Homo sapiens: one gene and its partner. The protein of the gene in region 1 interacts with the protein of each later gene in a pairwise test. Each region holds a gene or a part of one and is shown on either strand. Other genes may lie near its edges.

The links.
Region 2: the proteins of DRD2 (region 1) and RTN1 interact in a two-hybrid assay, tested with the Homo sapiens proteins (one large-scale study listed by BioGRID and IntAct).

The regions. Positions count from the first base shown.
Region 1 is NC_000011.10:113,416,399-113,419,898, forward strand, and holds part of DRD2 (D(2) dopamine receptor), read right to left. Parts: intron 1,739-3,500; coding exon 1,629-1,738; intron 602-1,628; coding exon 465-601; intron 1-464. UniProt on the Homo sapiens protein: Dopamine receptor whose activity is mediated by G proteins which inhibit adenylyl cyclase. Positively regulates postnatal regression of retinal hyaloid vessels via suppression of VEGFR2/KDR activity, downstream of OPN5.
Region 2 is NC_000014.9:59,864,277-59,867,776, forward strand, and holds part of RTN1 (reticulon-1), read right to left. Parts: intron 1-3,500. UniProt on the Homo sapiens protein: Inhibits amyloid precursor protein processing, probably by blocking BACE1 activity.

The DNA.
Region 1 (3,500 bases):
GCTTTCCTGCTCCAGGTGGCTAAGGCCTGACCTGGGTTTAGCAGGCCCTGAGGGCTGCAGCTTCATTACAAAAATACTATTGTCAGGAGTGGATGGAAGCCCAGTAGCCTCCGCCATCCCATGTTCATGTGCACATATACACACATGCAGTTTGTGAAGCACGTCTTGCCTCTTCAACTTAATAACCAAAGTTGAAAATTCCCAGACATACCCCTGAACCATTATCCCCACTCCTCATCCAACTCCGTTGTGTCCTGGGCCACTGTTTCCTCTCTGCCAACCTAGAACAACTCTTGAGTGGGGCTTGGCCCAGGACACGTAGCCTGGACTCAGTCCAGGGTAGTGATAGGCCTCCATTGGGCCTCCACCCATATCTGTGCCAGGGACTCTGCTCCCTCAGGGCCCTTCGAGGGAGCAGGGGCCCAGGGCCAGCTGAGCCTCAGGCAAACAAAAGCAGAATGTACCTGCGTTATTGAGTCCGAAGAGGAGTGGGCAGGAGATGGTGAAGGACAGGACCCAGACGATGGAGATCATGACGGTGACCCGGCGCTTGGAGCTGTAGCGCGTATTGTACAGCATGGGCATGGCCACAGCTGTGTACCTGCAAGGGCGGGGGACCCTGAATCTGGGGTGCAGGCCCAGGGACCCCTCACTCCACAATATGCACACACCAGAGACACCCTCACTCCTTGGGGCTAAACAGTTGACACACCTCTATGAAGCTTGCCTGAGATGCTAACTCAACCCTCCCTCCTGTCCCCAAACTCAGATGGCGAGGACAGTTGGCAAAGCCCAAACACTTAATCACTGGTGAGCTATTGTTTACTCTTAGCTCATATCTATTATTCTAACCGGCCCCACCTGGATTTCAGGCTTTTCGAAGAACCATGGCCTGCATCTTTGCACTTTTGAAACTGTACCCACTGCACTTGTGTTGAGCCCATAAGGTGGAAATGTTTGTTGATAAATTGTTAGCCAGGCCCCTCAGAGCAAGATTTAAGCCTTAGTTAGCAGGAAATAACAATGGCAATTGTCTACAATCCTTCATCACATTTTTTTTTTTACCCAGCCCTTCTCATTCATTAACTTATTTCATCTTCCAAGAATGGTGTGAGGGAGGTAGGGTCATATCTGTGCAAATTAGTGGAAGGCTCCAAGGATGCAGCTTAGCAAGGTGTGCATGGCCTGGGACCCTTGGCCATGTGCCAAGGACATAAAATGCATAACCAGATACTGCAGCTCCAGGCCACAGGTGTCATCAATGTAGGTTTCTAGAAAATGAAACTGAGAGCTCTGAAAACGTCCATCATCTGCCCAAGGTCACATGAGTAAGATGTGCTAGAGCTAGGGCTTCCGTCAGAATCACAATCTTTCCCCTTTTGTACCAGTCACTGTCTGAGTATGCTTGGCAGCATCACTGTCCATAGATGGCTTCTCTTTAGGGAGTGTGTGCTCTCCTAGCCAAACATACACACATGCACACCCATACACACAAACACATGGACCCCCATGCACACAGCCAGCTGCACAGCATCACAGACACGAGACACAGCCTGGCTTTGAGAAAAGCTGGGGCAGCCAGAATGGTGAGTGGCCAGAGCAACCTCTTCCACCCTGGCTGGGCTCACCTGTCGATGCTGATGGCACACAAGTTCAGGATGCTCGCCGTGCACATCATGACGTCCAGAGTGACGAAGATGTCACAGTGAATCCTGCTGAATTTCCACTCACCTACCACCTGGGGACAAAGCAACATAATGGATGGACAGCAGGAGTGGGAGATTAGCTTAGGTCCTGTAGCCTGGTACTCCTGGAGCCGATGAGGCCACAGACTCAGGAGGCAGCTGCAAGTCTTGTGGGCATCCAGCTGGGGTGTGGGGAGTGATGCCCATGGGTGTCTGAGGCCCTTGCCCCTCGCTTATCTTCTCCCAGATACATAAGACCACTTATTGCCAATTACTGTGCTAGAAGAAAGACAGCCAACTTATACGGAGGGCCTCAACTTTAAACCTTAATCTCTGCAACCTTTGTTAACCCCATGTGTTTTCTTAGATTCTGTATTTGTGTATTTGGCACCCATTCATCACAGAGACACCTATATTGACTATATTTTTCTATCTTCTCTGATCCTGATATTCTGGCACTTGGGAGCCTCACAGACCCAGAGAGAGACTTACTGTCCCAGAGCTAGTTAATTCCTGAAGACAGAAAATGACTGACTTGGAAGGATGCCTCTCAAATGCAAGCCAGCCACCCCGTTTCTCTAATTCACACACACACCAAGACAATATTTCCCCTGTCCCAAATTATCTCAGGTACCAGAGAGACAACTAGAGATCACCCCTGTAGCCCAAAGCCTGCCAGGATGTTGAGACTAGCCAACCCTAGGTTGCTTAATCTGCCCTGCCTTGCACTTCCTGTGGGAGCCCCAACAGGGCTGTAGCCTGGGCTTTCCCTCACCCCTGATTCTGACTCTTGACCCAAGCCTGCTGCTTCCCCCTGCACCCCACATGGCGGGCTGAGCATCTGGTTTCTAGGGACATTGTGTATCACGTTAAACTCTTCCCAATGGCACTGGCTTCCCTGTGTTATCACTCAGCCATACCTCTGTAAATTAGATTCCAGGTAAAATTTTAGAATGCCCGTGAGGAAACTGAGAACCAATGAGGAAACCAAGCCTCCAAAAAGTGCAGTGATTTCCCCAAGGCCTGTGGGCTCAGTTCCTAGTCCTGCTCTGGCCCAGGCTCTGGCTGAGCCAGGCAAGCCCTTCAGTGGTTGGCCCAGTACATGGCAGAGTCGGGGCCCCAAAATGATCTGTTAAGAATAATGGTGAAGATGAAGACTCGCCATGAAACAGAGAAGAAATTTCTGCTCCTTCTTATACCCAGAGAACGAAAGAAGGCAGATCTGGGCTAGTGCTCGAGGAACACCCGAGTGGGCTGGGGTAGGCGGAGGGGTTGCTGTGATGAGCTGTGTCCTTGGTAGGATGGGAAATGAAGAGTCTAGCTCCTGGCAGGAGCACGTTTCTCATACACACATGCACACAGGCACACACACACACACACACACACACATGAACGCACCGCCCTCCCCCCTCCCCACGTAACACCCATTCACACACAGGCACACACTCATGGCAGATTACGCAGGCACACACTCACGGCAGCTGTCCCTAGCGCTCTGGAAGCTTGGAGCAGCCCCAGTTCCCTGAGGATGGAGTCAGGACAGGGAGATGCACCTTTGGCTTCTACCAATAGGAGCAGAGAGGAGCGTGAAAGCCCCCTCCCGCAACCCGGAGTAGGGCAGACTTCGTGTCACCGTGTAGCTTGGCAGCAGGGCTAATTATAACCTTGCTCATTCTGATCACTGCCCTCTCTTCTGCTCCTAGGCATCCAACCAAATGCTGGCATTTAAGCTCAATGATGGGCAATGCAGCTGCTGTCATCCTGTGTGGCAGAAACAGCAGCTTGCCCCAGAACACAGCAAGCCTCTCATGCGGC
Region 2 (3,500 bases), on another chromosome or scaffold:
GGTTCCTTCAATGTGCTAGGCACACTCCCACCCAGGGCCTTTGCAAAGGAAATTCCCTCTGCCCAAAATGTTCTTCTCTCAGACATCTGCAAGACTGTTGTGTCACTTCCTTCAAGTCTGTGCTTTAAAGATACCTTATCAAAGAGGTCTTCTTTGACTATCCCTCTCATTCCCATTACTCTGTTTTGACCTTTTTCACAATACTTAATCATCCCTTGATATAGATGTTCTGGTCTCTGTTGCCCTTCCTTACTCTCTCCCCTTGCCCCCACCAAGAAAAAAAAAGTATAGTTTATGGATGAGAGGCTTTTATCTGTCCTTTTCTGTACTATAATCCTCAGTGCTTAGACAAAGCCTGACATATAGCAAGAGTTCAATAAATAGTAGTATAATCATAAGTAATGCTCTCTTGCTAAAACTAATTACAATGGTTACCTCTGGAGAGGGGCAATGGATTGTTGAAAGGTAAGGTGTGAAGACTTCCTTTTCTCTACTTACCCTTTTGTACCTTTTAGATTTTAATACCATGTGTATGTATTTTCTACCCACCCCCAATTTTTAAATCGGGACAAAAATAATTTTAATAAACAGATTTATCTTGTTGCTTTTGAATAAACATTAAAATCAAGATTTTTTTCATCGCAATGCTACCCTGTAGCATATCAGCCATCCTTTGAAATTTTGTGCAGTTTATAAATTAAAGAGCATGCTTTCTATATCTTTATGTCAGTTGAGCGTTTTGCAGAGTTCCTAGACATAGGAAGGGCTACATACATGTTGGTAATTCAAAATCTGAAAAAGAGGGAAATAATGTTGTACAGGCATTATTTTTTAGTGAACTAGAGGGAATTTCTGAACAATATATTCATTCTTTTCTAAGGGTCTATGAATATTTAGCATAATAACACATTCTTAGATTCTACCAGCAGTCAGTGTCAAATATATTGGTTTATAAGTTTTAAGAATCCACCATTTTCCCCTTTTTGAAAATCACTTATCAATTTCAGCTTTTCTAGCCCTAGTCTTATTCTCCAAAGATACTGGGAATGAATTTAAAGCTGCTCAGCACACTCATTCAATTCCATGAGATGTAAAGTAGTTGGATGTGAAGAACTGATCTCATCAAAGTAGTAATACAAGATTTTACCTTCTGTTTACTTATCCTGGGATCCCAGTATCTCTTTCTGTATGTTTCAATTTTCCAACTTAAGAATCACTGTCCATTTTAAATTAGGGAGCTCAAATAAGAATTGAGAAGCCCTTCCCTCCCTTTTCTCATACCCTATCACTACAGCATCTTCCACAAACAGTGGGCCTCTCTGGCTCACACTCTTCTCACTGTTCTCTTTGCCCTCAAATATTATTTAACCAAACAAAACTGGTTGTCTTTCATTTTTGGACCATGTTCTTTACAATGACTTTAGCCTAGAGCATTCCTATGTAGATACGTTTGTCTCTTGAAATGTCTTTTATTTTCACTGCCCTCTAAATTTTCCAGCATCGTTTTCAAAACTCCCTTAGTCACCACTGAAATAATCTAATTGTTGAATAAAATCACAACTAACTAATCCAAAGATCTTGATGTAACATTTAGCCAGTTATTTCTTTGAAGATGTAGAGAATGAGATAGATGATAGAAATAAAGGGAGAGAAAGATTTTGTTTTTCACAGCTAGACAAAAAGACAGATTTTGTCTTTCACAGTCTGAGCAAGCTGTGCTCATATTTACTTATCCTGTGTTGATCTCAGAAAACTAACTCATACCCTTGTGCCCATGGGGTTAGATTATTATAATTCCCTTCTAGTCAAGCTTCCAGCAATAACTTGGGAATGAAGAAAATGAAAAATAACACAAAAGGAACTATTTGGCTAAATTAAATACTGTGAATCAGAAAGGTGCACATGTTTTAGGAAGTCATGACTGACCTGTGTTTAGCACAGATCCTTACACAAAGGAGGCATTTAACATAAGTCTACTAAGTTGAATTGAACCGCAATGGTTTCTCACTTTACAAAAGATAATAAAAGCTTTCTGTAATCCTTGCAATCCATGCTCCCAGGGATAGACAATAAAATGGGCAAGATAACCAATAATGCTTCTCTCAACCCTCAGAATCAGAAGTAAAAAAGAGATGGAGAGAGGAGAGCCTATGAGCAGGGCAATGAGCAGGGTGGTTTTCTTGGAACAGTAAGTTCATGAAGGGAAAGTTAACCTGAAAGCCTTTATAATATTTATCAATGTATTTTAAAAGTATGTAAGCATCCTAAATTTAATTTAACCTAATTTGAATTCCCTATATTAAAGAACATATATTGTACTTACTTCCAGAAATGGTATTGATTGTATCCAGAGGATATGCCCACAGAAATAAATTGCATTAGTTTTCCAAACTCTTTTATTCATCTTATATGTTTCTTTAAAGATAGTAATGGCACAGTGTAATGTTCCTTACCATTTCAATAGAACTGTAGCTTTCTCAAAAGAAAGAAGATGGAAATTTATACCTTCTGAAGGGGATTACCTGGAAATGACTCCAAATAAAAAATGTCTACACATCTGTCAAACACATCCAAAAGTGAAGACAGTTAATCTAGCCTCCAAATGGAATTTAGAAGATGTTTTTCCAATACAGCATCACATTTAGCATTTGAAAAATGAGGACATATAAACAATATGGTCCATGTAAAGTAAATTGGAAAATGCTTTTTGTAATTATCTTGAAATTTAAGTCAAATTATTTATAAATTGATATCACTGCAGCAAATCATATTGGACTGATTTTTCCTGACCATTCTCCATCATGTTCTTGATTTTGCTTTCCATATATTAAGCAGTCAATGAGTTAATTTCCAAAGCAGGCAATGAGTTAACCTCTATTTCATTTTGTTCAGATGTTCTATTTAAAATTCTTTCTTTAAACAAAGGACCATTCTTTTTTCCTTTTGTTATTGTATGCTCCTTTTGAATAGTTTCCAGTAATAAAATAACTGATCATGAAAAAACAGAACAGTTGCTCTTAACATTCTTTGTATAAAGTTATTAGATGATGGCACTTTTATGATTAACAACGCTAACATGTCGTAGCCTACCTACGGTGTATTAAATGTTCCCTTGTCAACACACATAATTTCACATGTCCATTATCAGTTTAGACATGAAGTTGTAACTTTAGAAGACAGTGTTATTTTGATGAGACTATTTCCACGCCACAAAAGGGACAGAAGCAATGAGAACACCTGAAAATAGAGGATTGATGGAGTTTTATGGTGCAGTTTTAATAATGTTTAAACTTATATTCATTCCAGGACACTGCTGAGACATATTTTTGGAAATGTTCCTGGGATAATTTTAATTACCATCAATGTATAAAAATAAATAACAGAATATCTGTCCAGATGGCATGATTGGTGATGTTTTTCAGAAAAACAGTTATTAAAACATCAATATCTGTCTTATATTTCCATCTAAAAAAGAAACAAAATCTGTTTACAGTGCATCA